Homo sapiens: one gene and its partner. The protein of the gene in region 2 purifies or fractionates together with the protein of the main gene of each other region. This does not show direct contact. Each region holds a gene or a part of one and is shown on either strand. Other genes may lie near its edges.

Region 1 (3,655 bases), on a different chromosome or scaffold from region 2:
CAGGGAAATTAAGTGATTTGCCTTGGATTTTACTTTTACTAGTGCAAAGTAGGAGAATTTCAAGCTCTTACTTTACAGGTCACGATATCATTGTTTGATTTATGGCTATTTGGAAATAGAAATAAGTTTAAAAAGAAAAATGGGCCAGGTGCCATGGCTCACGCCTGTAGTCCCAATATTTTAGGAGGCCAAGGAGGGAGGAATGCTTGAGGCCAGGAGTTCAACAGCAGCCTGGGCAACATAGGAAGATCCTGTCTGAAAAAAAAAAAAAAAAGAAAAAGAAAAAAGAAAATGAAAGGTTTCCTAGAGAAAGTGTTTTCAACTTTCTGCTCTTTTTGAAAAGTCATTTATATGTTATATTTAGCCGGGCACCGTGGCTCATGCCTGTAATCCCAGCACTTTGGGAGACCCAGGTGGGCGGATCACAAGGTCAGGAGATCGAGACCATCCTAGCTAACACGGTGAAACCCCATCTCTACTACAAAATGCAAAAAATTAGCCAGGCGTGGTGGGGGGTTCCTGTAGTCCCAGCTACTCGGGAGGCTGAGGCAGGAGAATTGCTTGAACCTGGGAGTCACAGGTTGCAGTGAGCCAAGATTGCGCCACTGTACTACAGCCTGGGCGACAGAGCGAGACTCTGTCTCAAAAAAAAAAAAAAAAAAAAAAGGTATATTTAGTAAATTCCTATGAAAAGGATACTTCTGAAATAATTAGGTAGAAGAGAAAATACATTGAATGTATTTAAATAAACTTGTATAGGAGAAATGAGGGTATGTACGCTTTCATGTTTTCTTTCAAAGATTTATCTTTCAAATTACTTGTTTAAGCACAGTAGTATTGTAATTTTGAAATAGTCTTTATACCATGGTAATGTTTCAAGTTTTATTTTCAAAAACTATTCTATCAAAATTCTTGACCCTTTGTTTTATACTCTCTTCCAAATACACTGATACTCAGGTTGATATTCTAGAATTGACATTTGCCAAAATAAGGGTTTGTCTTGTTTTAAGTGTTTTTAAAATGAAGCCTTATTTTAAAAAAGATTTTTTGAAAACATGGTATGCAGAAGCCAAGACATTATCATTCTAAATAAACACTTGTAATGGTCTTCGTTTGTAATAAATGTATTCAGTCTCAAAAGTCAGTCTGAAGTCTGACACCATAATTTTTTTCCTTCATTTTATTGAATCTACCAAGTAATAATGGGTTAAATGTTTCATTCAGAGTTGTGTTGTAATTTTAACTTGTGTTTGAGAGTATCGGTTTTCATTTTCATTTTCATTTAAATGTGAAAATCCTCCTGGGTGTGGCTGTAATCCCACTGTAATCCCAGCATTTTGGGAGGCCTATGCCAGAGGATCAAGGATCACTTGAGGCCAGGAGTTTGAGACCAGCCTGCACAACATAGGGAGGGTCCATCGCTATAAAACATTTAAAAACTAGCCAGGCGTTGTGCACACTCCAGTCCTAGCTACTCAGGAGGCTGAGGCAGGACAATCACTTGAGCCCAGGAGTTTGAGGCTGCAGTGAGCTATGATCCAGAGCAAGACCCTCTATCTTTAAATATATATATATATATATATATATATATAATTAAATGTGAAAATCATCAACATAATGTTTTTTAGTATCTTAACATGTTTACAAATAATAAGTGTTGGTTTTTCACAGTTAGTATGTACAATTTTTTTCTCATATCTTGGAACTACTTATTTTTTGAGAGAGTCTCACTCTGTCGCCCAGGCTGGAGTGCAGTGGCACCATCTTGGCTCACTGTAACCTCTGCCTTCTGGGTTCAAGCGATTCTCATCCCTCAGCCTCCCAATAATGTGTCTTTAATATACACTTTTTAATAATTACCTCTCTCTTCTGAGATGCAATGTAAGAATTCCTACCAGGCCAGGCACAGTGGCTCACGCCTGTAATCCCAGCACTTTGGGAGGCGGAGGCGGGCAGATCACCTGAGGTCAGGAGTTCGAGACCAGCCTGACCAACATGGGGAAACTCCATCTCTACTAAAAATGCAAAATTAGCCGGGCATGGTGGCGCATGCCTGTAATCCCAGCCACTCAGGAGGCTGAGGCAGGAGAATCGCTTGAACCCAGGAGGCGGAGGTTGCAGTGAGCCGAGATTGCACACCATTGCACTCCAGCCTGGGCAAAAAGCAAAACTCCATCTCAAAAACAAAAGAAAAGAAAAGAAATCCTACCTTATTGGGCCTGTTCATAGTTATAAATATGGACATAATGGTAATATTTACTTGATTTTACTTCCGGAAAAGCAGTGATTATAGAATTGCTACTGCTTGCCAAGTAATTAGAAAAATAAAAATGTAAAAAAAAATAAAAGGATTGCTACTGCCAACCTTACACAAATTATAGTATAGTGTTACTAAGCCATACCCCTTAATTTGAATTAGCAATTTAAATGAGGACTGAGCTGGTTTATTTTTATATTATATATTAAAATAACACTAGTAAAACCAAAGTATTTATATAACCATTGAGGACATGTTTTAATTAAGGAAGCAAATTTATTGATTAAAAAGGAGTCCTAAGGTATCTGTTGGCCCAGTTCAGGGATCGGCAAACTGCAGCCTGTGGACCAAATCCAGCCCAGTGCCTGTTTTTGTAAGGTCCATGAGCTAAGAATGGTTTTTACAAATGAACATTTGTAATGACTTTGATGCTAAGGATCACTAACTTTGAGCTCCAGTTAAGTAGAATGTTACCCCCAAAAGGGGAGTTCCATTTTTTTCGTCAGTAGACCTGTATTACAAAAAAATTTGTAGTCAGTTACTTACTACATTTTGAATTTTATCAATAAGGTATTTGCGGTAGTGTGTTTTCTCTTCCTATAAATGTACCTACATAATTGCCTCAATTTTACCTCTTTTACCCACAAAGCCTAAAATATTTACGATCTGCCTCTTTAAAGAAACCTTTCATGTAATCATATGTATTTAAAAGCATTGCATTTTAAAAGAATCATCTAAAGAAAATTTTTAAAACAGGATGTATAACCTTTTTATTATACATATTTATGCATTATGAAAGGATTCAAAAGGAAAACAATATTGCTTAGAAGTTAGGAGCAGGGGGCCGGGTGCGGTGGCTCACACTTGTAATCCCAGCACTTTGGGAGGCTGAGGTGGGTGGATCACGAGGTCAGGAGATTCAGACCATCCTGGCTAACATGGTGAAACCCCGTCTCCACTAAAATTACAAAAAATTAGCCGGGCGTGGTGGCGGGCACCTGTAGTCCCAGCTACTCGCCAGGCTGAGGCAGGAGAATGGCGTGAACCCGGGAGGCGGAGCTTGCAGTGAGCCAAGATTGCACCACTGCACTCCAGCCTGAGCGACAGAGCGAGACGCCGTCTCAAAAAATAAGAAGAAGAAGAAGTTAGGAGCAGGGTTCTAAAACCAAACTGCAAGGTTCTAATCCCAGCTGTACCATTACTATTTTTGTTACCTTTGGAAAGTTACTTAATTGCTTGGAGTCTCATTGTCCTCATCTGTAAAATGGGGATACTCATTATTTAAGTTCAAAGAGTTGTTTTAGAGGTAATGGAGTTAATACACATAAAGCATTTTAGCATATGTTTACTATTTATAAAGAGTTGTTTTAGAGGTATTGGAGTTAATACACATAAAGC
Region 2 (3,655 bases):
ATAAAATACATTAGCCATGTGGAAAATGAGCAAACTGGTATCTGAATCAGGGATCCATGTGCAGGCTCTGAGCGATCTAATGGAGAAGACCACTGTGCCTCTGCCCAGAGTGGCCCCAAGCTCGAGAGTCACGCAAGAACACACAGGTAGGGTGGCCACACGCAGCACGGTGAGTGAGGGACGCCGAGGGTGACTCCACAAGTCTTTGGAGGGATTTCAATCAAGGGATTTCTTCTTCTCTACAGCGGGCAGATGAGAGGCAGAATTCAAAGCACTTGTCCATTTAAAGAGTGAATGTAAGATTTTAGTAATACACAAAAGCAACTTCACTTTTAGGCCCCAAACCAGAGCTTGTAACAAAATACCCAATGCTACATTAAGGTTGAATTCAGGGAGGAGATTTAAGCCATTGATAAAGGCCTGTGCCTGTGCTTTCTAGTTCCCCTACAACTTTTGAAGGAAATGAGTTGTTTGGGGGCCGTAAAGCCAAGTTTTTTAAGATATTAGAAATAATCTTTGTAATTGCTTTGCTAAAGAATCCTAAATACTTTAGTTAAAAAGCAAACAAACAACAACACACAGCAATATATTGCAGAGGTATCAACACCAAATTCTGCTCCTCTATTTATCCTGGAATTATAAATTGGAAAAAAGCTAAATATAGATACTTCTGCCACATAGTATGTTAGATCCAGGGCAACTGCCCAAATAGCACGTTTTGCTCCCTTTGGAGAATTAAAGTTGAATCCAATATAAAGAGGTGTGTGGGCTCTACCGCCAGCCTGCACCCAGCATGCACTAGCTGGGTGACCTCCGGAAATAGGCATAGAAAGTCATCGTTCCTGGAACACTGTGTATACCCAGTAAATGGTCACTACTATTATTAATAAATATTTATGACAAGGACAAATTGTGGTTTGAATATATTCACTTTCTAAATTATCTGGAGGGTTTACTTTTCTTCAGGGGCATGGAGGATAAGGGTCAGCTTCTCCTCAGAGTAAAAATTAGTTTTAAAAAATGTAAAACCTGGCCAGGCACAGTGGCTCACACCTGTAATCCCAGCACTTTGGGAGGCCGAGGTGGGCAGATCACATGAAGTCAGGAGTTCAAGACCAGCCTGGCCAACATGGTGAAACCCCGTCTCTACAAAATTTACAAAAATTAGCTGGGTGTGGTGGCAGGTGTCTGTAATCTCAGCTACTCAGGAGGCTGAGGCAGGAGAATTGCTTGAATCCAGGAGGCGGAGGTTGCAGGGAACCAAGATCGTGCCATTGCACTCCAGCCTGGGCAACAGAGCAAGACTCTGTCTCAAAATAATAATAATAATAATAATAATAATAATAATAATAATAATAATGTAAAACCTGTCCAGAGAGGAGAAAGAAAGGGCTGCCCCAGTATCCCAGCCCCTCTCAGGCAGATCAGACAATCAGATGAGGATGGTAGTTACACTTCCCTATCCGAGGAATCAAGTGCAGCACGAGAATCCAGTGGAATGGTTGTTCCAGCGGCATGGAAGCAACTCTTCTATCTTCTTCTCATGTGACCTGGATGTGATAATTCTACTGCCACATGGGGCCATGCCTTGCTGTGTGTGGGTGGGAGGGCATGTGAGGCAGTGGACCAGAGTAAGCCCAGGTGTCCCACAGGCTTTCAAATATCCATTTGTGGCTGGGCACTATGGCTCACACCTGTAATCCAAGCACTTTGGGAGGCTGAGGCAGGAGGATGGCTTGAGGCTGAGGAGTGCAAGACCAGCCTGGGCAATATGGCAAGACCTCAACTCTGCAAAAATAAAAAATTAGCTAGGTGCGGTGGTGTGTGCCTGTAGTCCCAACTACTCAGGAGGCTGAGGCAGGAGGATCTCTTGAACCCAGGAGATGGAGGCTACAAGTAAGCCATCATGCCACTGCACTCCAGCCTCGATGACAGAGAAAGACCATCTCTAAAAAACAAAACAAAACAAAAATCCTCTTCTTTAACACTTCACAGGAAAAACTGAGATCAAATTCTTCTGACAAAAGTATTAGAAAATATTATCTTTTTACACTGGAAATATGAAATCGAATTCTGTGCATTTAAGCATAAAGGAGGATTGAGATTTCTTTCCCATCCCACCTAGTTCGTGGCCTCCTGCTGCGCAGGGATAGTGCTTTGGGCTCAGTGCAGAAATAATCCAGGCTGGAATGAGAAAGCTTTTAGAAAATTCCTGAAGAGCAAAACAATGCCTGATCCAACTGAGGACCCAGACAGGCTCTACTAGCTGAAGATGGCATTTCAGACATGGACAGAGAGTCCAAGTTATCCTCGCGTGTTTACATTTTTTTGGATATGAGAGGTGTGTCTCTTACAGAGAGGAGGTTCTGCAGGCTTACACTGTGGCTGGCCACCTGGGGCTGCCTTCCCAGTGGGGCTTGCTAGCTCGCAGGCAGCTCACTGACTCCCACTCCTGCTGTCTTATCTCAAACGTGGAGTTCTCCAGGGCAAGATTAGACTGTTCAAATTAGAAACTGGGATTAACAAGAGTGAGGCTCTCCTGCAGAATTACTTCCCTTTCTCTTTGCTGGACCAGACTCACTGACTTCTGAGGCTGCATCTGGGCAGCCGCAATGATGCCCAGCTTTCCCCCTAAGGGAGAAGCACATACAGTTAATCAGGAGGGATGCACCTTTATCTCAAAGTGCAGCCAGATAGCTATTAAAGGCCTTGCTCTTAAATTTTCTTCTCAGTAAACAGCCAGTGTGTAAAGCTGTTTAATCTTTCATGAGAACTGGAGCCAGAACGTGATGGTTTGCGGGAGGCTCTCCACGCTGTATCTGCCTGGAAACATTTTGCAATTAGCGCAGTCCATTTTCATCAGGGGTCATCTATCTGTCTGTAAAAGACTGGGCGCTTTTAGTGTTACAGGAACCTGTGATGGAGGCCTCTGTTAATGGACAGAATCTCTTCACCAAATTTTAACTTTAAGCTAATGCAGCTTTGGGGACCTTGTTTAAAATTTGGGGTTTGGGGCTAGATTTGGTTCTGCTTTAAAATATTCCTGAGACTCGGCTGGGCGTGGTGGCTCACGTCTGAAATTCCAGCACTTTGGGAGGCTGAGACAGGCAGATCACCTGAGGTCAGGAGTTTGAGACCAGCCTGGCCAATATGGTGAAACCCCATCTCTAAGAAAAATATAAAAATTAGCCAGGCGTGGTGGTGGGCTCCAGGAATCCCAGCTATTGAGGTGGCTAAGGCAAGAGAATTGTTTGAACCCAGGAGGTGGAGGTTGCAGTGAGCTGAGATGGCACCATTGCACTCCAGACTGGGTGACAAGAAACTGTCTCAAAAAAAAAAAATATATCTATATATATATATAGATATATATATTCCTGAGACTCTCACTTGTATATAGTCCTTCCCAGACCACTGCTTTGCATTCATGATCCTATTTCCCTCATCTGGGAATGGAGGGTGCCATGCTTTTGAATGAAAGCCTTGCTGACTAATGTTCTCACAAAGAAAGACCATGGCCCTGGAATGTATCCAATGTAATCCAGTAGTTACCCTCGGGGTGCTCCATTCCTAATTCCTTTAGCTTTGGGGCTCTGCATATCTGACCTGGGGCTCGGCTGACAGGGAGCACCTGATAACTATCACTGGTTAAAGGTAG

What was found. The genes of interacting proteins can lie anywhere in the genome.
Region 1: the proteins of ENPP6 (region 2) and NDUFB3 purify together in Homo sapiens (affinity purification with mass spectrometry; 3 studies listed by BioGRID and IntAct, with this or other methods). This does not show direct contact.

Annotation. Positions count from the first base shown.
Region 1 is NC_000002.12:201,074,922-201,078,576, forward strand, and holds part of NDUFB3 (NADH dehydrogenase [ubiquinone] 1 beta subcomplex subunit 3), read left to right. Parts: intron 1-3,655. UniProt on the Homo sapiens protein: Accessory subunit of the mitochondrial membrane respiratory chain NADH dehydrogenase (Complex I), that is believed not to be involved in catalysis. Complex I functions in the transfer of electrons from NADH to the respiratory chain.
Region 2 is NC_000004.12:184,092,326-184,095,980, forward strand, and holds part of ENPP6 (glycerophosphocholine cholinephosphodiesterase ENPP6 precursor), read right to left. Parts: intron 911-3,655; exon of another isoform or gene 1-910. UniProt on the Homo sapiens protein: Choline-specific glycerophosphodiesterase that hydrolyzes glycerophosphocholine (GPC) and lysophosphatidylcholine (LPC) and contributes to supplying choline to the cells.